4 separate regions of the Homo sapiens genome follow, and regions 1, 2 and 3 are each linked to region 4. The links come from fine-mapping of genetic effects on gene expression. A gene starts in region 4. Each other region holds a variant in brackets. All regions are shown on one strand. Distances are from middle to middle.

Region 1 (5,141 bases), 94 kb before region 4:
AATCACTATAGTCCAGCTCTTAGGAAGCCCCAGTCCTAGGGGAAAGGGAAGAGCACCACATCTAAGGATCACACCATGGGATAAGAGAATCTGAACAGCAGGCCTTGAGTTTCAGATTTCTTCACTGAAATAGTCTACCCAAATGAGAAAAGAACAGAAAAGCAATTCTGGTAATATGACAAAACAGGGCTCTATAATACCCCCAATGATCACACCAGCTCCCCAGCAATGGATGCAAGCCAAGAAGAAATCTCTGAATTGCCAGATAAAGAACTCAGAAGGGTGATTATTAAGCTACTCAAGGAAATGCCAGAGAAAGGTGAAAACCAACTTAAAGAAATTTAAAAAGCAATACAGGATATGAATGAAAAATTCTCCAGAGAAATGATGTCACAATGAAAAAAATCACTTCTGGAAATGAAAGATACACTTAAAGAAACACAAAATGCATTGGAAAGGTCAACAATAGACTAGAGCAAGTAGAAGAAAGAACTTCAGACCTCAAAGACAAGGCTTCTGAATTAACCCAATCAGACGAAGACAAAGAAAAAAAGAAGTTAAAAATGAACAAACCCTCCCAACAGCTAAACCTAAGAATAACTGATGTTCCTGAGGAAGAAGTGAAATCTAAAAATCTGGAAAACTTGTTTGAGGGAATAATTGAGAAAACTTCCCTGGTCTTGCTAGAGATCTAGGCATCCAAATACAAGAAGCTCAAGGAACACCTGGGAAATTCATCACAAAAAGATCATCACCTAAGCACATAATCATCAGGTTGTCTAAAGTCAAGAATGTTAAGGAAAGGATCTTACGAGCTGTGAGGCAAAAGTATTAGGTAGCCTGTGTAGGAAAACTTTTCAGACTTCTCAGCAGAAACCTGATAAGCCAGAAGGTACTGGGGACCCATCTTTAGCCTCCTGAAACAAAATAATTTTCAGCCAAGAATTTTGTATTCAGTAAAACTAAGCTTCATAAATGAAGGAAAGATAAAGTCTTTTTTCAGACAAACAAATGCTGACAGAATTTGTCACCACTAAACCAGCACTACAAGAAATGCTTAAATGAGCTCTAAATCTTAAAACAAAAGCTCAAAATACACCAAAATATTAATAGAACCTCCTTAAATCATAAATCTCACAGGGCCTATAAAACAATAATACAGTGGGGAAAAAAACAAGGTATTAAGGCAACAACTAATACGATGAATAGAACATCAGTACCTCACATCTCAATACTAACATTGAATGTAAATGGCCCAAATGCTCCACTTAGAAGATACAGAATGGCAGAATGGATAAAAATACACCAACCAACTATCTGCTGCCTTCAAGAGACTCACCTAACACATAAAAACTCACATAAACTTAAGGTAAAGGGATGGAAAAAGACGTTTTACATCAATGGAATCCAAAAGGGAGCAGGAGTAGCTATTCTTGTATCAGACAAAACAGACTTTAAAGTAACAACAGTTTAAAAAGACAAAGAAGGACATTATATAATGATAAAAGGCCTTGTCCAACAGGAAAATACCACAATCCTAACTATATATGCATCTAACACTGGAGCTCCCAAATTTATAAAACAATTACTACTAGACCTAAAAAACAAGACAGACAGCAACACAATAATAGTGGGGGACTTCAGTACTCCACTGACAACACTAGACAGGTCGTCAAGACCAAAAGTCAACAAAGAAACAATGGACTTAAGTCCATTTGCACCAAGGTATAGTTTAACAGATATTTACAGAACATTCTATCCAACAACTGCAGAATATACATTCTTTTCTTCAGCACATGGAACATTCTCCAAGATAGACCATATAATAGGTCACAAAACAAGTCTCAGTAAGTTTTTAAAAATCAAAATTATATCAAGTATCCTCTCAGACCACAGTGGAATAAAACTGAAAACTCCAAAAAGAACCCTCAAAAGTATAAAAAATACATGTAAATTAAATAATCTGCTCTTGAATTATCTTTGGGTCAACAGTAAAATCAAGATGGAAATTTAAAAATTATTTGAGCTGAATAATAGTGACACAACTTTTCAAAACCTCTGGGATACAGCAAAAGTGTTGCTAAGAGAAAAGTTCAGAGCATTAAACACCTACATCAAAAAGGATGAAAGAATGCAAATAGACAATCTAAGGTCACACTTCAAAGAACTAGAGAAACAAGAACAAACAAAAAAAAACTCAGCAGAAGAAAAGAAATAACAAAGATGGGAGAACTAAATGAAATTTAAACTAAAAAAAATAAATGGAACAAAAAGCTGGTTCTTTGAAAAGAGAAACAAAACTGCTAGAACATGAGCAAGATTAACCAAGAAAATAAGAGAGAAAAAATCCAAACAAGCTCAATTAGAAATAAAATGAGAGATATTACAACTGATACCACAGAAATATGAAAGACCATTTAAGGCTACTATGAACACCTTTACACACACAAACTAGAAAATCTAGTGGAGATGGATAAACTCCTGGAAATATACCACCCTCCTAGGTTAAATCAGGAAGAAATAGAACTCTGAACAGGCCAATTACAAGTAGCAAGATTGAAACACTAATTTTAAAATTGCCATACAGGCATGGTGGCTCACAACTGTAATCTCAGCACTTTGGGAGGCCGAGGCAGGTGGATCACCTGAGGTCAGGAGTTCGAGACCAGCCTGACCAAAATGGTGAAACCCCATCTCTACTAAAAATACAAAAAATTAGCCTGGTATGGTGGCAAGCACCTGTAATCCCAGTTACTCAGTAGGCTGCGGCAGGAGAATCCCTTGAACTCAGGAGGCAGACATTGCAGTGAGCCAAGGTCACACCATCGCACTCCAGCCTAGGCAACAAGAGCGAAACTCCGTCTCAAAAAAAAAAAAAAAATTGCCAACAAAGTCAGGTGTGGTGGCTCACAGTAATCCCAACACTCTGGGAGGCCGAGGTGGGTGG[A/C]TCACTAGGTCAAGAGTTCAAGACCAGCCTGGCCAACATGGTGAAACACAGTCTCTACTAAAAATACAAAAAAAATAGCTGGGTGTGGTGGCACGCACCTATAATCCCAAGTATTTGGGAGGCCGAGGCAGGAGAATTGCTTGAACCCAGGAGGCAGATGTCACAGTGAGCCAAGATCATGCCACACTGTGTCCAGAATTGGTTCTTTCCGCTGGGTTCTTGGTCTCACTGACGTCAAGAATGAAGGCGCGGACCCTCATGGTGAGTGCTACAGTTCTTAAAGATGGTGTGTCCGGAGTTTGTTCCTTCAGATCTTCAGATGTGTCTGGAGTTTCTTCCTTCCAGTGGGTTTGCGGTCTTGCCAACTTCAGGAGTGAAGCTGCAGACCTTCGCGATGAGTGTTACAGCTCTTAAAGGTGGTGCGACTGGAGTTTTTTGTTCCTCCTGGTGGGTTCATGGTCTCACTGACTTCAGGAGTGAAGCTGCAGACCTTCGTAGTGAGTGTTACAGCTCATAAAGGTGGTGCATCCGGAGTTACTTGTTCCTCCCGGTGGGTTCATGGTCTTGCTGACTTCAGGAGTGAAGCACAGACCTTCGCAGTGAGTGTTACAGCTCATAAAGGTAGTGTGGCCCCAAAGAGTGAGCAGCAGCAAGATTTATTGTGAAGAGCGAAAGAACAAAGCTTCCACAGCATAGAAGGGGACCTGAGCGGGTTGCCGCTGCTGGCTTGGGTGGCCAGCTTTTATTCCCTTATTTGGCCCCACTCACTTCCTGCTGATTGGTCCATTTTACAGAGTGCTGATTGGTCCATTTTACAGAGTGCTGATCAGTCTGTTTTTACAGAGTGCTGATTGGTGCGTTTACAAACATTTAGCTAGACACAGAGCGCTGATTGGTGCATTTACAAACCTTTAGCTAGACAGAAAAGTTCTCCAAGGCCCCACCCGACCCAGGAGCCCAGACAGCTTCACCTCTCAACAGCACTCCAGCCTGGGTGACAGAGCAAGACTCCATCTCGGAAAAAAAAAAAAAAATTGCCAATGAAAAAAGTCCAGGATCAGATGGATTCACAGTTGAATTCTATCAGACATTCAAAGCAGAATTGGTATCAATCTTACTGAAAATATTCCAAAAGATAGAGAAAGAGGGAATACTCCCTAAATCATTCTATGAAGTCAGTATCACCCTAATTCCAAAACCAGTTAAGGATATAACAAACAAACAAAAAAGAAAGAAAAGAAAACTATAGACCAATATCTCTGATGAACATAGATGCAAAAATCCTCAACAAAATAGTAGCTAACCGAATCCAACAGCATTATCAAAAAGATAATACAGGGGGATTTTGGGATCATGGCAGATGGGGGGCAGGACTAGATTGCAGCTCCAAACAAGGCAGCATGCAGAGGCTTGCATTGTGAATTTTAGCCCAGATTGACTGCAAGAAAAAAACAGCAATCCTTAGAAGACCCAAAGACCCTCTGAAGGAAGCAGACTGCTCCTGTGGGAGCCAGGAGACACCCTAAATACTGTGAGTGCCCCAACTGCATAAGTGAGAAGGGAGATTCTCCTTTCCCAAACACACACCCCCACTAGAGAAGATGAAGGTCTGTTTGCAAGAGAAGTTTCCAACTTTACCTGGAGCTGAGTCAAGTTAGAGAGCTGAGCGAAATACAGGGGTACAGGAAGCACCAGAAAGGCGCTGGGAGCTCACTAGGTCCCCAAGCAGCCCATTCCTGCCTGACACCACAGGAATCCATCGGGAGGGTGGCCAGAGGAGCAGGCGGTTAAACTCCACAAGGAGAAGGAAATCTCTAGCTGAACTTTGTAACAATTTGAAAGGGGTGAGAAGCCTCCTAGCCAGAACTTGTGGGAGGGCATGAATCTGGTGCACAGACTTCACAGGCAAGGGGAAGAACTAAAGCCATTTTCTTTCACAGCTGGGAGGCACAAAGCCTCCAGTAAGTTTTCAAGTCCATCCCGCCCTCTGCCTGGAAACAGACTCAGGGCTGTTGTGGGAGGCACAGTAGGAATGAGAGTGGCCCTTCGGTTTATATGGGAGCTGGGTGAGACCTGTGACTGCTGGCTTTCCCCCACTTCCCTGACAACCTGCATGACTCAGCAGAGGCAGCCATAATCCTCCTAGGTACACAGCTCCAATGACCTGGGAATCTCACTCCCATCCCCCACAGCA
Region 2 (5,141 bases), 36 kb after region 4:
TCATTAATTTGCATTTACTGTAGCAACCAAACTGTGGTTTCCACCAGGATTTAGTAAGTACAGGTTGCAAAGAACAGCAGGTCAGGCAAACAAGTAACATTCTGTTATGTGAAACACAGGAAACAAACCTACCTGCAGCTCCAACTGAGCAGGCAGCATTAGAGGAGAGAAAAATAGTTACATTACCAATTGGATTGGAAGACTTCCCTTCAGTTGGTCATTACCAATCTGGATAGAAAAGATGAAAAAATACATAGCCCTACTTTTTAGAATGTGTGAGAGAAAAAAAAACAAAATAGCTCAACTAAGACTGACCTCCAAAAGCCAGATACATATGGCTTTCGCTTTGACACAAGGAACCTTGCACCAAAACCAGTAACCCTGCTCATTCAAAAATGCAAGTACAATTACGGCTGGACTGTGTTTGTGCATCCACAACTTCACTGCATGTGTGGGCTTCGGTTTTTTTTTTTCCTTCCAAAAAAAAAAAAAAAATCTAGCAAGGGTTTCTCTGGACTTAGTAAAAAAAATCAGAATGGCCAAAGCAGAAAATATAGTAATTGAGCAAGAGAAAGAAGTGCAGATTAGGAACTAAAGGAGAAGGATGGATGGGATATTACTTCATAGCTTGTTTTCCTTGCTGGCCTGTATTTCTGTATGTTGATATACTCTTGTGAAATAATATACAGTGAGCTGAGAGTTTCATATGTTTCGATTACAGGGCTCTCATAAAGGCTGTTTAGCCTCAGTTCTTAGAGCCCTTCAAAGCTATCATATGACTACAAATGTTTAAATGTGTTTTTACATGAAGGCATGGACTAGACTATTTTTCAAGGTCCCTTCTAGCCTAGAGGCAAATAAGAAGACCAAAAGAAACATACGCTGAACGATCATGCATGTAGAAATTGTAAAGCCTGGGAAGTTATACAAAATGTCTCTTTCATCTACTGGAAAGTACCAATATGTCTTTATGCACTCAGCTGCCATAAACATGGGTTGTAAGTCATTGGTTTTTATCAGCACAGACACTTATCCCACAAAGCCATATTGTTTTCCACACGAATCCCCTGCAGTTCCTAACTCAGAGTCAAATGCTATTTGTGAAATAATAAGAGAAAACGCATCTGAACTGCAAGTCAGGAAAGCCCTGCAGCCGCATGGTCTGAGGCCAAGACACAGGTCCCGTGACTCAGACACTGACTAACTCTCGAACTGACAGCTTTGGCTCAAGCTATCCGCAGGTGTGTGAACTGTACCTGCCATATCAACTTGGACACAGGTCACTTTACATTGATGAGTAATGACATTTGCCATTCTCCCCTGGGAAGCTGTAGATAAGCACATTTAGTTACCCAAAATCAACTTGAGAGCTATGATTAGGCACAAATTAGCCTGGTTTAAAATATAAATGATTATTATAACTAAATGTACTTATTTCTCCACTTCCAATCTGTGAATTGAGGGATGCAGAGAGCTAGTCCAGGAGCTGCCAACCTCTAGGCCTCTGTGTCGTCACTAAATTGGTCAAATCTAGGACCAGCCATGCCAGCCTGCCATGGGACACAGAGACATTGAGAAATAGTGAACACTTTCTTTCAAAATAAGGGGATCGAGCATGTGACAGGCTAGATGCAAGATTTCAGAGAGGAAGGTGAATAGGTTAGAAAACCACCAGAGAGCTGGTGGTGGGAGGAAGATGAGCGGCTGGTGCCAGGAGCCGCCGGCTTTCCCCACTTACTCGGATGCGCTTGGCTCTGCGCATGTCGTCGGCTGTCAGCGTGCTCTGGGTGGGCACCACGCTCTCTTCATGCTGCGGCTGCAGGTGCAGGGTGTGAGTTTCTGGTTCATGTTCCAGGGAAGACTGGGTTTCCTGTGGCAGCTGAGGGATTGGGATAGTGGTCTGTTCTGGTTGATCCAGCCCATTCAGAGTGGCTGGTTCAGCCTCATCAAATTGCTCCTTTGTGGGAAAATGTAGCAAGTCCTGAAATTTGCAATAACCAGGAATAGAGATCAGTGCCGGAGGGACTGTCAGCTCAGATTTAGAATTGCTGCTTATTTCAGAATGACTAGATTCATAATACTCAGAAAAAATATTCTCCCTCTGGGAAAGTTAATTAGGTAACTATGCACAGAAGGCAAAAGCAGGAGAGGTTCCACACCACTTAACAAGGAAAAGACTGTGATCTGACTTTTCTGGAATATCAATAATTTTAATTGTTTAAACTAATTAAACAAAGTCCACCTCTACTAACTCTGGTCAATTTTATTTATTTATTTATTTTTATTTTATTTTATTTT[A/T]TTTTTTTTTTGAGACGGAGTCTCGCTCTGTCCCCAGGCTGGAGTGCAGTGGCGCGATCTCGACTCACTGCAAGCTCCGCCTCCCGGTTCACGCCATTCTCCTGCCTCCGCCTCCCGAGTAGCTGGGATTGCAGGCGCCCGCCACTGCACCCAGCTAATTTTTTTTGTATTTTTAGTAGAGACGGGGTTTCACCGTGTTAGCCAGGATGGTCTCGATCTCCTGACCTCGTGATCCGCCCACCTCGGCCTCCCAAAGCGCTGGGATTACAGGCATGAGCCACTGCGCCTGGCCAAGTCCGGTCAATTTTAAATCTTTAGAGCAGCAAAGTTGGGTTTTTGTTGTAGGTAACACTTGAAAATACATTCTTTTCTGGCATTATCCAATCATTCTTTAATTAACAGGCAGCAAGGTCTGATAGGAAAGGTCTACAAACATTGGGAAGGTCTTTGTACTTAGGTCTCGTCAGGGATCTGGCGAGTCCTCCACACAAGCACCTAAGGAGGGCTCCTTCCCGTCCCCCCGTACCTGTGTCCCATCGTCACTCTTTTCCCCATTTTCGCTGGTGATTTCCAGGCGGATAAATTTTGGAGGACGCCCCGGCCGTCGACCTGGACCGAATCGCCTCTTGCCTCGTCCCCTTCCTCTGCCTCTTGTTCTGGGGACAAGAGATTGGGTTACAGGTCGTCATGGTTACATAATACTCCATAACAAGTAGCGACCTAAATGATCCTTACTAACCCCAGAGTTTGATTCCTCTCACCTTATTACTTTCCCAGATTTTCTCCAATAGAAACAACTGTTTTACTAATATACACTTTCTGAATGTCTCATCCTTCCCCTCTATTACAGCTTAAAGATATGTCTTCAATTATTCTGAAGAAAAGAGCTATAAAAATTCAAAGCACTGACAATATTTTGCTTCTGAAATGATGTGAGAAAGGCAGACAGGACAGAACATGCTAAGCCTTTGAGCGTGTTCCCAGGAGATGTCATCTGAGACAAGATTCCCATTATTTCTCTCTTTTTCCCCTGGCCTCGCCTCATATTCCTTCCAAGAAATGTGGCCAAATTCAAACAACTTTCTTGTTTTACTACAAGCTTCTGGAAGGTCAGAACAAATTTCTAATTCAATTGTTTCATAACATGCCTAGTAAACATCAATTAACTTTTGCATCCCCTTTAATGGACTTTTTTTTTTTCTCTTTTTGAGGCTAGGTCTTGCTCTGCTACCCAGGCTGGAGTGCAGTGATGTAATCATGGCTCACTGTGGCCTCAACCACCTGGGCTCAAGCGATCCTCCCACCTCAGCGTCCCAAGTAGCTGGGACTACAGGCATGTGGCACCACGCCCAGCTAATTTTATTTAATTTTTTGTAGAGATGGGGTTTCACCGTGTTGCCTGGGCTGGTCTGGAACTCAAGCAATCCTCCCTCTTGGGCCTCCCAAAGTGCGGGGATTACAGGCATGAGCCACCATGCCTGGCATGAATTGCCAACAAACACAAATTCCTTAATAAAAGAGGCTTAAAAAAGTAGGTTATGAAAGCTTCTTTTAGAAGATATGTATGTGGGAAGTGTACAATGTCAATCAGATCAAATTTTATTCTTCCACTCATCCATTTAATAATTTAACAAATACTATATATTTTTTCCAGGAACTTTTAAAAGACTCTTCATGTTGGAAAATTCTGAACCTAGGTGAATGTAGAGACTAGCACGATGAGCCCAATGTACCCATAACCCAATTCCAACATTTTTCAAACCATGGCCAACATTTTCCATCTATATCCCCACCACTTGCCCACACACATACCCAGTAGATGACTTGGAAGCAAATCCCAGATATCTTTTCATCTCTAGATATCTTGGCATGTCTCTCTGAATCATAAGAACTCTTTATATATATATGACCACAATACCATTATCACACCTGAGAAATATCTGAGAGTTGCTGAGTATTATTATATCTAGTCAAAGTTCAAATCTTCCTAGTTGTCCCAGGTTTCTCTTAACAGTTGGCTAACAAACATATTACCTACTGTGTATCACATACTGGGCTAGGCACTAAGGACATCAGATTACAGGCAACAGATTTTACCCTCAGGGGTCTAGAAAAGGGAGCTGGCATATAAACCAAAAATCACAATATAATATAAAAAATGCTACAATAGAGCCATGAACAGAGTTTTGGAGATTCCCAGGAGTGACTCAAATCTCACTGTGTCCACCCCCTCCTTAGACATTTACCCCTGTGGTCACATTCTAGACCCTGTCACCCTTGTAAGCCTCTTCATGCCAATCCCATGCACTGCCCACTCGGACACTACCCTGGCTCTGTAGTTTACTCCCTCTAGTACCCAGCACTCAGCAACCCTTCAGCCACGCGAGCATCTCCAGTTCAATCCTTCCGGTGCTTTCGTGCAGCTCTGCATCACTGCCTTGATGTTCTCTCCCCTTCTTCCACAGCATACGCTCCAAGGTCATCCACTGGAACCACTCCCTCGTGCGTGCTCTCAGTTCCCATCCCATGGCTGCTCTGTTTTCTCAATGTGTGTTATGAGCACTTGGCAAAGCCACAACCCTGTGTAATTCAATTCCCTGCCTGCTCTGCACCAGCATCCCTGCAGCTGAATGAAGCTGGAGAAAACGCACAGCCATGCTAGTGGGCTCACTTTCATTTCATAACCATGAACCCCAAGTGGGCATTTAATAGAGTGGGCAATTGTATGGTACTTCCCTAGAACATTCGCTTTCCCACTTACCCAACTACCATCTCACACATCTCCTCTCTTTCCAAACCCTAGAAAAGCTGGCAACCCTACATCTGTCCCCCTGGCATGAGCC
Region 3 (5,141 bases), 20 kb after region 4:
TTAGTTTGTCACCATTAACCCACTATGACAGTGGTTCTTAACCTTTTATATATCATAAACATCTTTGAAAAAGTAGCTAAAGTACAGGCCCTTTTTCTAGAACAATGTACCTATACATCATAATTTACAGGCAACTTCAGGGACTCATATAGCTTCCTCCAAAGCCTGAAGTTAAAAACCCTCCATAAGAAAAACAAGACAAAGAATAGTCAACGACAGTGGCAACTTCCAATTTCCTGTCCCCATGTTAGTTTTAAATTTTCAGAGACCAAATGATTTCAAAGCAACAAGTTTGTTCATTTGTGCCTTGGGGACACTTCTCCTCAGTGTAATTAAATGAAACAATAGTTCTGGGAGAATCACTTTCATTTAGTTCCTTAGTCAATAAGAATGAGTTATTCATTATCTGGTAGAAGGAACACAGTTATACCTCTATACTACAAAGGCACTGACTGATATGCAGAGATTGACTCAATTTTTTTTTTTGAGTCCTGTTCTGTCGCCCAGGCTGGAGTGCAATGGTGTGATCTCAGCTCACTGCAACCTCCGCCTCCCAGGTTCAAGCAATTCTCCTGCCCCAGCTTCCTGAGTAGCTGGGATTACAGGCATCCGCCACCATGCCCAGCTAATTTTTGTATTTTTAGTAGAGACGAGATTTTGCCATGTTGGCCAGGCTGGTCTCGAACTCCTGACCTCAAGTGATCTGCCCGCCTCAGCCTCCCAAAAGTGCTGGGATTACAGGCATGAGCCACTGCGCCCAGCCATCAATATTATGCTTTATGACCTCTCTTTGATATAAGACATTTGATACGCAGGTCGTGATTTATCAAACTGGCTCATTACCAAGCAGCCAACCAGGATGGTTAAAGATAAGGATCAGAAGAGGGTCAGAAACAGGTGCTGTGGCTACTGTCCTGCCACAGCACAGGAGGCTTGTATATGCTGGAACCTAAAATTTCCTGACTACTATAGACAGAAATCTCTTACATTGCTAAGGCCAGAGGCCTCATCAGCCTGAAAGGGGAAGGGGCAGTTGTAAAATGCCCAAGGCTCAGAACTTCCACGCAGAAGGACATTACATAGATCCCAGCCCCAGCTCTGAGAATGAGGTGCTAGTGGCAACACGGCATTCATAAGGCAAAGGGAAACCAAGGCACGCAGTACCGAGGCCACTTGAACCACTTGCAGCTGTATGTGCTGAGGCTGCTGGAGGCCAGACGCCGACTGCGACACAGGGATGTACTGAATTCTCTGGTAATCCCCTTGTGGCGTTCGGTAGTCTGTCGTTAAGGTCTGGGACAGTTCTGTCATTGCTTGGGTGAGCAGGTCCGTCGTCACCACAGTCTCTCCAGTGGCGCTGTCTGTAGTCAAAACCGCTGGGGTGGCACTGATCACAGCTGTCGTCAGTGGTGTGTGTATGGTGTTGGAGAGCTGGGCGAACTCTGGATGCTTCTTTCGAATGTGCTGGACCATCTTGGTCTGAAAAAGCAAGGCAAAAAACAAGAATAATTATTAGAATTTGTGATTTTCCGTTTTTCTCATATGTAAATCCTCCAAAGATTCCTAAAGTCTTTTATGTCTTAAAAAAAGAAAAATCAGAGCAACACTGACTCTATGCCTGTACTTCCTGGGGTAACATAATGCTATGAAAGCAGGGAAGAGGGTGGGGAAGAAGTAAAACCTCACCTGACCTCACACCATCAGCAAGGTCTCAATACCCCCCCCAAATAGTACCTGCAGCAATCAATCACAATCCCCCCAGCCAAAATGACCTCCTTTGTAAAGCCACCACGTAACTTTCTATGTGGTGCTTCCAAAAGCCTGAACTCACCAACTGCAAGCACAGAACATTCAAACGTGAGGCCCTCCGCAGGCCAAGGGAAAAGGAAAACAGCCAGCTGCTCGGGCTGCTGTACGGCACTAATTCTGGGGAGGTCCACAGTATCCTCTTTCCATTCTCTGCTGTGCTCTCTGTTTACAGTGACTAGGACAACATCTCTTTCAGTCCCCCGTCAACTCAGAAGGAGCCATCCAGGCCATGTGGATGAGAAGCCACCTTTCCTTAAGAGATTCCTCGCATGGCGGTTTTGACCTTAGCTTTAGTCAGAAACTCCCCCTACCTTGCTGCTGTACTGCTTGGAGCAGTGGGGACAGCAGACGGGAGGGGTGGCGATGGTGCC[C/T]GTCAGCTGGGTGTGTGTGCTCAGCATGGGGTCTGGCTCTCCAGGACCAGCGGGTCGGAGCTTCCGAATGCTCGGTGGGAGCTCTGCTCCTGGGTGGTTCTTCAGAATGTGGGCTTTGCGCTTGCTGGCACTTTTATAAACCTGCAAATGTAAGCGCCTTGCCATGAAAGCAGTATACAGTTCCACTTTCTTGCTTAAAGCAAACTAACAATTTCATTATAAGAAAATGAGGAAAAGTATTCATGTAGCCCCAAATAAAATATATTAATATGTATATTAACAGATCTATTGAAGAGCAAGGATATACTACAAATTAGAATAAAATAAGAACATAATGTAGATATGATAGGTTTCTTTCTTTAATCTATAAATCTAAGATAATAACTGTGAAAATACCCTTTATCCTAAAGTTTAAAATTTGGATATGATACACAGACAGAGGAAGATAATTGTTTTTAAGGCCCATCCACCTCATATGAGAGCTGCCTGTGAAAGCTCTCATATGATGTACGCAGCTGAAGACCAGGAGCCAGAGAATCTTCCAAATGGCAACGTCAATAGCAACTGCTATCTATAGTGGGGAATCTATGTTAAAAAATGTTTCTCACTTTTAAGCTGATATAGCTACATTATATAAGGAAAGGATGGCTGGGTGTGGTGGCTCATGCCTATAATCCCAGCACTTTGGGAGGCCGAGGCGGGCGATCACCTGAGGGTGGATCATCCTGGCCAACATGGTGAAACCCTGTCTCTACTAAAAATACAAAAATTAGTTGGGCGTGGGGGCTGGCGCCTGTAATCCCAGCTACTCCAGAGGCAGAGGCAGGAGAATCGCTTGAACCCAGGCGGAAGTTGCAGTGAGCTGAGATCATGCCACTGCACTCCAGCCTGTGTAACAGAGCAAGACTCCATCTCAAAAAGTAAGAAAGGATATTACAGTGGAATAATAAATATATATTCTGTGTCTTTTCTGTAACTACATGAAAATAATGCAATAGTACAAGTAGAGTACTCCACCACAAAGCTTTCCCAACCCCCTCCACCTTATAGAAACCCCAAAACTACCATATATGTTATAGGTCATGATAAATGCTCTCATTTTAGAGCCTAGGAATTTGAAATTAATTCATACACTAAGCACTAGTAATAAACCTCTTCTTGTGTAACAAAAATCACAGAGAGAAGGGACAGTAAGAAAAATGAAGTCAACTATTTCTTAAGAAAAAAATTTGGCTTAAAATAAGGCTGTATTTCTAGTCCTTTCTTGTCTGAATGGAGACTACTGAGAGACAGGTAACCATCTGGTAAGAGTAACAAAAAAATCGTAGTATATATTTATAAATACGGACAAGTCAGCTCTAAGCAGGGAACCCCAGTGGCATACCAATATGAATATTTCCCTTTTACCTTATCGCAATACTGACAAAAGTAATCACGATTGGGTTTTATGATGGGTAGAGTTAACTCTGGCACCTCTTCTATCTTCATGTCTGGGTGTCTCTTCGATAAGTGATTTACCTAAAGGGAAAAGAAAGAACCAATGAGAAAAAGAGACCCCATTAACCAAACAGAAGCTACACGAATGCCTCTGATAATGACCGCCAGAAGCTGGAATTCTCTGAAGCAATGCCCCCAAATAATAAGGCATTTGGCCAGAACCAGGATCACCAGACCCCATCTGATGCCAAAGCACTCACAGTCATGGTTAACAGGAGTTAACAATAATTCACCAAACAATTGAAGGTGACTCACTGTGGTGAATTCAGCCATCAACAGTCTTTGGCTGAAAGAACTACTATTGGAAAAAGGAAAATTACACTGGTATGAATTTCTTTGGTGAGTTCTCCTCATGCAAACCTGTCTTTCATTATTTAATGCCCTAGTCTTACTAAGAACATGGAATGAGATACAGACTAAGGTTCTGAATTTTAAATATTGCTCTATGACTTTCCAGCACCTGGCAGAAATATATTCTGCACCCGTAACAAGGTCAAAATGAGTTGAGAGCAGAGCACTGGCTGTCTGATGCTTCAGCTAACCTGGATGCACATACCCTGCTTTGACGGAAAGCTTCCTTCTACTGCTGTTTGATATCTGGAAAAGAGAGGCATTAAAAGGAAACAGCTGGGGGCTGGGTGCAGTGGCTCACGCCTGTAATCCCAGCATTCTGGGAGGCTGAGGCAGGTGGATCACCTGAGGTCAGGAGTTTGAGACCAGCCTTGCCAAAATGGTGAAACCCCGTGTCTACTAAAAATACAAAAATTAGCCAGGCATGGTGGTGGGCACCTGTAATCCCAGCTACTCAGGAGGCTGAAGCAGGAGAATCGCTTGAACCTGGGAGGGGGAGGTTGCAGTGAGCTGAGATCACGCCATTTCACTCCAGCCTGGGCAACAGGAGCGAAATTCTGTCTCAAAAATAAATAAATAAAATAAAAGGGAACAGCTGGGGAGAAGGCAAATACCCCATTAAAAAAATACATTCAGGGACACAAAAGAGGGAACTAAAATAAGGTGAGAGCAGAGATTGAGATGGGTAAAGAAAAACAAAAGTAGTAATGAAAAGTGATTAAAAAAAAAAAAAGAAAAAGAAAAAGACCTCTTACAAGAATTGATCCAAAAAGCAGCAAGAGAGAGCAAAGGGAGACTAGAAAAGACAGAACTCCAAATTGGGAATCGTTTGCCTCTGTTTCTTCCCCTGGACATTGACAAAACCATTGATCGATATAACTTAGGACACAATGCAACACAAACGTCACCATCATCGACAGCAATGAGGTATGCTGGGAAGACAGAGGAACCCGCAGCCACTGGGCACTGACCAGCATGCCGCGCCGCCGGAAGCCCATCATGCACAGGCGGCACTTGAACGTGAAGCTGTCGTAGTCTGTGGACGTGATGCGGGGCTTGAACGTCTTGGAGCGGCTGATGCGGTCGGCTTTCTTGGCCTCCCTCTCAGGATTA
Region 4 (4,858 bases):
TCACACCTACAATCTCAGTACTTTGGGAGGTCCAGGCGGGCAGTCCCCTTGAATCCATGAGTTTGAGACCAGCCTAGCGAACATGGCAAAACCCCTTCTCTACAAAAAAAAAAAAAAAAAAAAATCAGCCAGGCGTGGTGGCGCACGCCTGTAGTCCCAGCTACTCAGAAGGCTGAGGTGGGAGGATCGCTTGAACACGAGATGCAGAGGGTACAATAAGCCGTGATCACGCTACTGCACTCCAGCCTGGGCAACAGAGACCCTGTCTCAAAAAAAAAAAAAAAGGAAAGGAAAAAGAGAAAGAATATTGTTTGTTGTTCTTTCACAAAAGAAAATTTGCTGAAAATCAACATACACTAGTAAAATGCAAATGCTAACAGTCACTTTATGAGGGCCTATTAAAAGCCAGGCCTTTCACATATCTCATTTAATTCCTACAACTGTGCAAAGTAAGGTCATGGGTTATTACATCGGAATTAAAACTGAAAATCAGAGTAGGTCAGTAACTTGCCCAACCCCAGAGGCAGTACTGAAACTCAGGTCTACCTGCCTGCAAACCCATGTGCTTAATGCTACACACAATACCTCTTGTATAACCTCGCAACATTTAAATAATAAAAACGAACCTTACTGATATGACTTTATTAGTCCATATAAATTCCTGAGGTTCCACACACCTGACCATAACCACCAGTAAAGTCAATGGCCAATCTGCCTTTAGTTGGTCCATTTGATCCGTATAATCATGTAAATTAATGCTACTTTTCTCCTTCGTGTAATAACAGAACACTGCTGATCACCTTCAGAAAACTACATACCACAACATTTTCAGACTGATGGCTGGGATTAGGGGTCAAGTTGATAGCACAGGACTGCACAATGCTAACAGGACCACAGGGAGCTTAAACTCAATCACTCTACCAACATTTACTAAATCCATCCTTTCCAGCTCCTATTCCTACAAAGTGGGCTAAAAAGCATACTAAAATGAAAAGAAAAAAGGATGTTAACAGTCAAAACACCAGAATTCCATATTCCACATTCCACAAACACCACATTCCACAAATCTTACCACGCCAGGTGTCAATTTCCTTATTTGAGGAAGGGAAGCTGGACCAGGTCCTCCCTCCCGTTATTTCCAATTCTGGAATCCTGCAATGAATAATCTCTAGATGAGTGACAGTGTGAATTACGTAATACAGGTACTTTTCTTTTCCAAAATTCTCCAATGATAAAGAACAGTTCTAGAATAACTATATGTAAAATGAAGCATGTTCCACTAAATTATTTCAAGCTCCCTTGAAGAGATTTCAGATCCATGTAAAGATATAGCAGAAACTTAAGCGTTGAGTCAAGTCACGTGGGTGGTCCCCAAGCAACTGTGCCCCCTCATCACCCTTCAGCACATGGTGAAATGACATCCTCATCATGCCTATGCCTAAATAAGTGAAGCGGGTGAGACAGCACATAGCATGTGAGTTTAACAAAACTTCAAAATAGCACCAAAAAAAAATTGCAGAAGCAACCTGATGCTCAGAATAAAACCTTCTTAACAGAACTGGCATAGAACAGACTATCAACTGCAAAGTCAGTGTCCTACCTGCCTCTTAGGAGGTCTCTATACAACTTGCTCACAAGTTTCTTCAGTGACGGTGCGTGTCTAGCTAAAGTTAATCTAGTCCACTGACAACCTTTGCACTGCCACTATTCTGAACAGAATCTCAAAATACCAAAACCAGGCAGCTGCCAGGGAGTTGGACCCCGGAAGCCAAGGATTTCCAGATCTTCGGGCGTTCTGAACCTCTTCACTAGACCACGAAGGCCTCTCGGCCTCTCATCACTGGCTTTCAGCACCTGGTCTAACTTTCCCCGCTGGACCCTCCCCAACGCAGAAGCTAAACCCTCGGGTCCTTCCAGAGCAACCGCCGGCTCCAAAGCCCTCAACTCTGCAGCAAATTCCCCTCCGGTGCCAGCCCGGCTGGCCCAAGGCCCGGGTCCAATCCTCAGAACTGCACGGCTCGGCCCCGCCCCTCCCCCACGCCGTGCCTAACCCTAACCCCCAGCCTCACGCGTCGCACCGCTCCCCACGCCCCGCTCCCGCTCCCCACGCCCACACGGGCAGCGACCTCGCGGACCCAGCCGCCCGCTCCCGCTCCCTCCACTCCCAGGAGACACTTCAACCCTTTCGCCGCCCCTTGCCCGCCCTCACCTGAACCGCGGGCGCCGGCCCCCTAACCCGCAGCCCTTCTCCGGCCGCGGGCTCCCAGACGCACTCGCTCCCGCAAGGAGTCTGGGTGCGCGCACGCTCTGGGCCTGCGCGGCGGAAGGGGCGGGGCAGCGCGGGGCGGGGCCTGGAGGGTGCCGGGGCGGGGCCACAGCGGGCGGGTCCTGGAGCGGCTCGGGAGAGCGGAGGGTCGGCGAGGGTGCCTGCGCGCGGCTGGGCCTGGGGATGCAGGTTCCAGCCTGCTTGCGCGTCTCACCTGATTTAGGAGCTTCCAGAGGCCCCAGACAGTGCCTGTCTTTGCCTGACCGCGAATCAAAGTTCCATAGCCCGTGAGCGAAGGCACGTCTATTAGCTGACGTTTGCAGAGAGCATACCCTGCCCCAGGCCCTATGCTAAGCACTTTCTACCCACCGTCTTTGTGCTGCAGCCCTGTGAGCTATGCACTATTAGTGCCCATTTTACAGTTGAGGACATGAGTAGAACGCGACCTCAGCCTGTGCTTCCGAGTTCCTTCATTCCTCCTTCCCGTCCCCGGGCCCTCGATGTCCAGAAAGAATGTAAACACATCGAAGGATCACATTTTAAAGTTAAACTCCATCATTTTCCTCTTCTTAGATATGAAGGCCCCTTTCCTGTTATTCACTGGGTTTTGCTTAGTACGGCTTCACACTACTTATTCCAGGTACTCCCAGCAGTGGCGCAGAGACCATCCTCAGTTCTGTGTGTGGATGGGACCAGAGAAGCCGGCCGGCCGAGCTAATGTTCTTCCCTTCCTGGAAGAGAGTAGTTTCCAAACAACCCGATCTCTGTTCCTCTACTGGCTCCACATATGCTCTAAGTTCCTGTTACACTGTTGAGAGGCTCTTGAATTAGAAACTATCGAGTATAAATGGCAGTGGAATATCACTCTATAGTTGTCACCGATATTTCCCTTACCTTGAGATTGTGACAAGACCAGAAAGAGAAAAAGAGTAAAAACAATGTAAACTATAATTTTTGATAGACTTTGTTTTTTTAAAGTGGTTTAAAGTTAACAAAATTGAGCAGAAAGATATTTTCCAAATACTCCCCGCCCCACCTCCCCACATGCATCGCCTTCCCTTTATCAACATCCTCTACCAGAGTGGTACATTTCTTAGAACTGATGAACCCGGCCCGGCCTGGTGGCTCACGCCTGTAATCCCAACACTTTGGGAGGCCGAGGCGGGCGGATCCCGAGATCAGGAGATCGAGACCATCCTGGCCAACATGGTGAAACCGCGTCTCTACTAAAAATACAAAAATTCGCCGGTCGTGGTGGCGGGCACCTGTAGTCCCAGCTACTCGGGAGCTGAGGCAGGAGAATTGCTTGAACCGGGGAGGCGGAGGTTGCAGTGAGCCGAGATTGAGCCATTGCACTCCAGCCTGTCGACAGAGCGAGACAGAGCGAGACTCCATCTCAAACAAAAGAACTGATGAACCTACATTGATACATCATTACCCACCATCACAGTATAATGCAGAGTAATTTCACTGTCTTAAAAATCATCTGTGCTCTGCATATTCATCTCTCCCTCTCCTCTACCCCTGGCAACCGCTGATCTTTTTGTCTCCATAGTTTTGCCTTTTTCCAGAGTGTCATCTAGTTGGAATTACATAGTATGTAGCCGTTTCAGATTGGCTTCCTTCCCGTAGTAACAGGCATTGAAGTTTCCTCCATGTCTTTTCATGGCTTGATAGCTCCTATTTCTTTTTAGTGCTGAATAATATTCCATTGTGTCGATATATCACAGTTTTATCTATTCGCTTACTGAAAGATATCTTCATTGTTTCCAGGTTTTGGCAATTATGAATCAAGCAATTATGAATCAAACAACCCAGAAATCCAACCACCCACTCCAGGCATCTTTGCATGAACGTATCAAAAACACCTCAGTCCCAATGCCCAGGATCTTCCCCTTTGAGAGGCTGAGATGGGTGGATCACTTGAGCCCAGGAATTGGAGACCAGCCTGGGCAATATGGTGAAACCCCATCTCTACTAAAATAAATACAAAAAATTAGCCAGGTGTGGTGGCACGTGCCTGTAGTCCCAGCTACTCAGGAGACTGAGGTGGGAGAATCGCTTGAGCCAGGGAGATCGAAGCTGCCGTGAGCTGTGATTGCACCACTGCACTCCAGCCTGGGCAACAGAGTGAAACCCTGTCTCAAAAAAGTAAAAAGAAAAATAAAACAACAAAGAATAAGTAAGACTTTTCCTTTACCTTCATTATTAAAGGTAATAATGATGTTCTTTCTTTATATAGATCTGAGGTTCTGACTTTTATCATTTTTCTTCTCTCTGAAAAACTTAACATTCTCTCCAAGGCAGGTCTACTGGCAACAAATCCCCTTTGCTTTTGGGGGATAATTTCATGGGCTACAGCATTCTAGGTTAGACACTGCTTTTTTCTCTCAACACCTTAAACATTTCATTCCACTCGCTCCTTGTGTGCACAGTTTCTGAAGAAAAGTCATTTTTTGTTCATTTGTTTTTTGGTTTTGAAGGATTTTTTTGCATTTATCCTGTGTGTCCTCTGAGCTTCCCGGATCTGTGGTTTCATCTTCCATATTGATTTGGGGAAATAATCAATCATTATTGCTTCAAATATTTCTT

Evidence for each region. PIP is the estimated chance that this variant, and not a neighbour inherited with it, causes the effect. A credible set is the group of variants that fine-mapping cannot tell apart.
Region 1: its variant is the best candidate, but not a certain one, in a credible set for the expression of NFRKB in blood mononuclear cells (TOPMed, PIP 0.61).
Region 2: its variant is the best candidate, but not a certain one, in a credible set for the expression of NFRKB in whole blood (INTERVAL, PIP 0.76).
Region 3: its variant is the best candidate, but not a certain one, in a credible set for the expression of NFRKB in whole blood (INTERVAL, PIP 0.86).

The regions. Positions count from the first base shown.
Region 1 is chr11:129,798,692-129,803,832 of GRCh38, forward strand. The region is part of intron 1 of LOC124902793 (a long non-coding RNA gene); the gene reads right to left. Among named protein-coding and RNA genes, the nearest start is that of TMEM45B, 15 kb to the right of the region's middle. RefSeq lists an enhancer at 4,807-5,141. The variant A/C (reference allele first, on the strand shown) is at 2,948.
Region 2 is chr11:129,929,278-129,934,418 of GRCh38, forward strand. PRDM10 (PR/SET domain 10) reads right to left here. Exons shown (of 21, transcript NM_199437.2): 10 at 2,825-2,954; 11 at 1,739-1,981. Among named protein-coding and RNA genes, the nearest start is that of NFRKB, 36 kb to the left of the region's middle. The variant A/T (reference allele first, on the strand shown) is at 2,299.
Region 3 is chr11:129,913,540-129,918,680 of GRCh38, forward strand. It overlaps PRDM10 (PR/SET domain 10), which reads right to left. Exons shown (of 21, transcript NM_199437.2): 14 at 5,000-5,141; 15 at 3,588-3,698; 16 at 2,121-2,321; 17 at 1,165-1,479. Among named protein-coding and RNA genes, the nearest start is that of NFRKB, 21 kb to the left of the region's middle. The variant C/T (reference allele first, on the strand shown) is at 2,181.
Region 4 is chr11:129,893,287-129,898,144 of GRCh38, forward strand. It overlaps NFRKB (nuclear factor related to kappaB binding protein), which reads right to left and starts at 2,292. Exons shown (of 27, transcript NM_001143835.2): 1 at 2,210-2,292; 2 at 1,073-1,152. RefSeq lists a silencer at 2,009-2,448.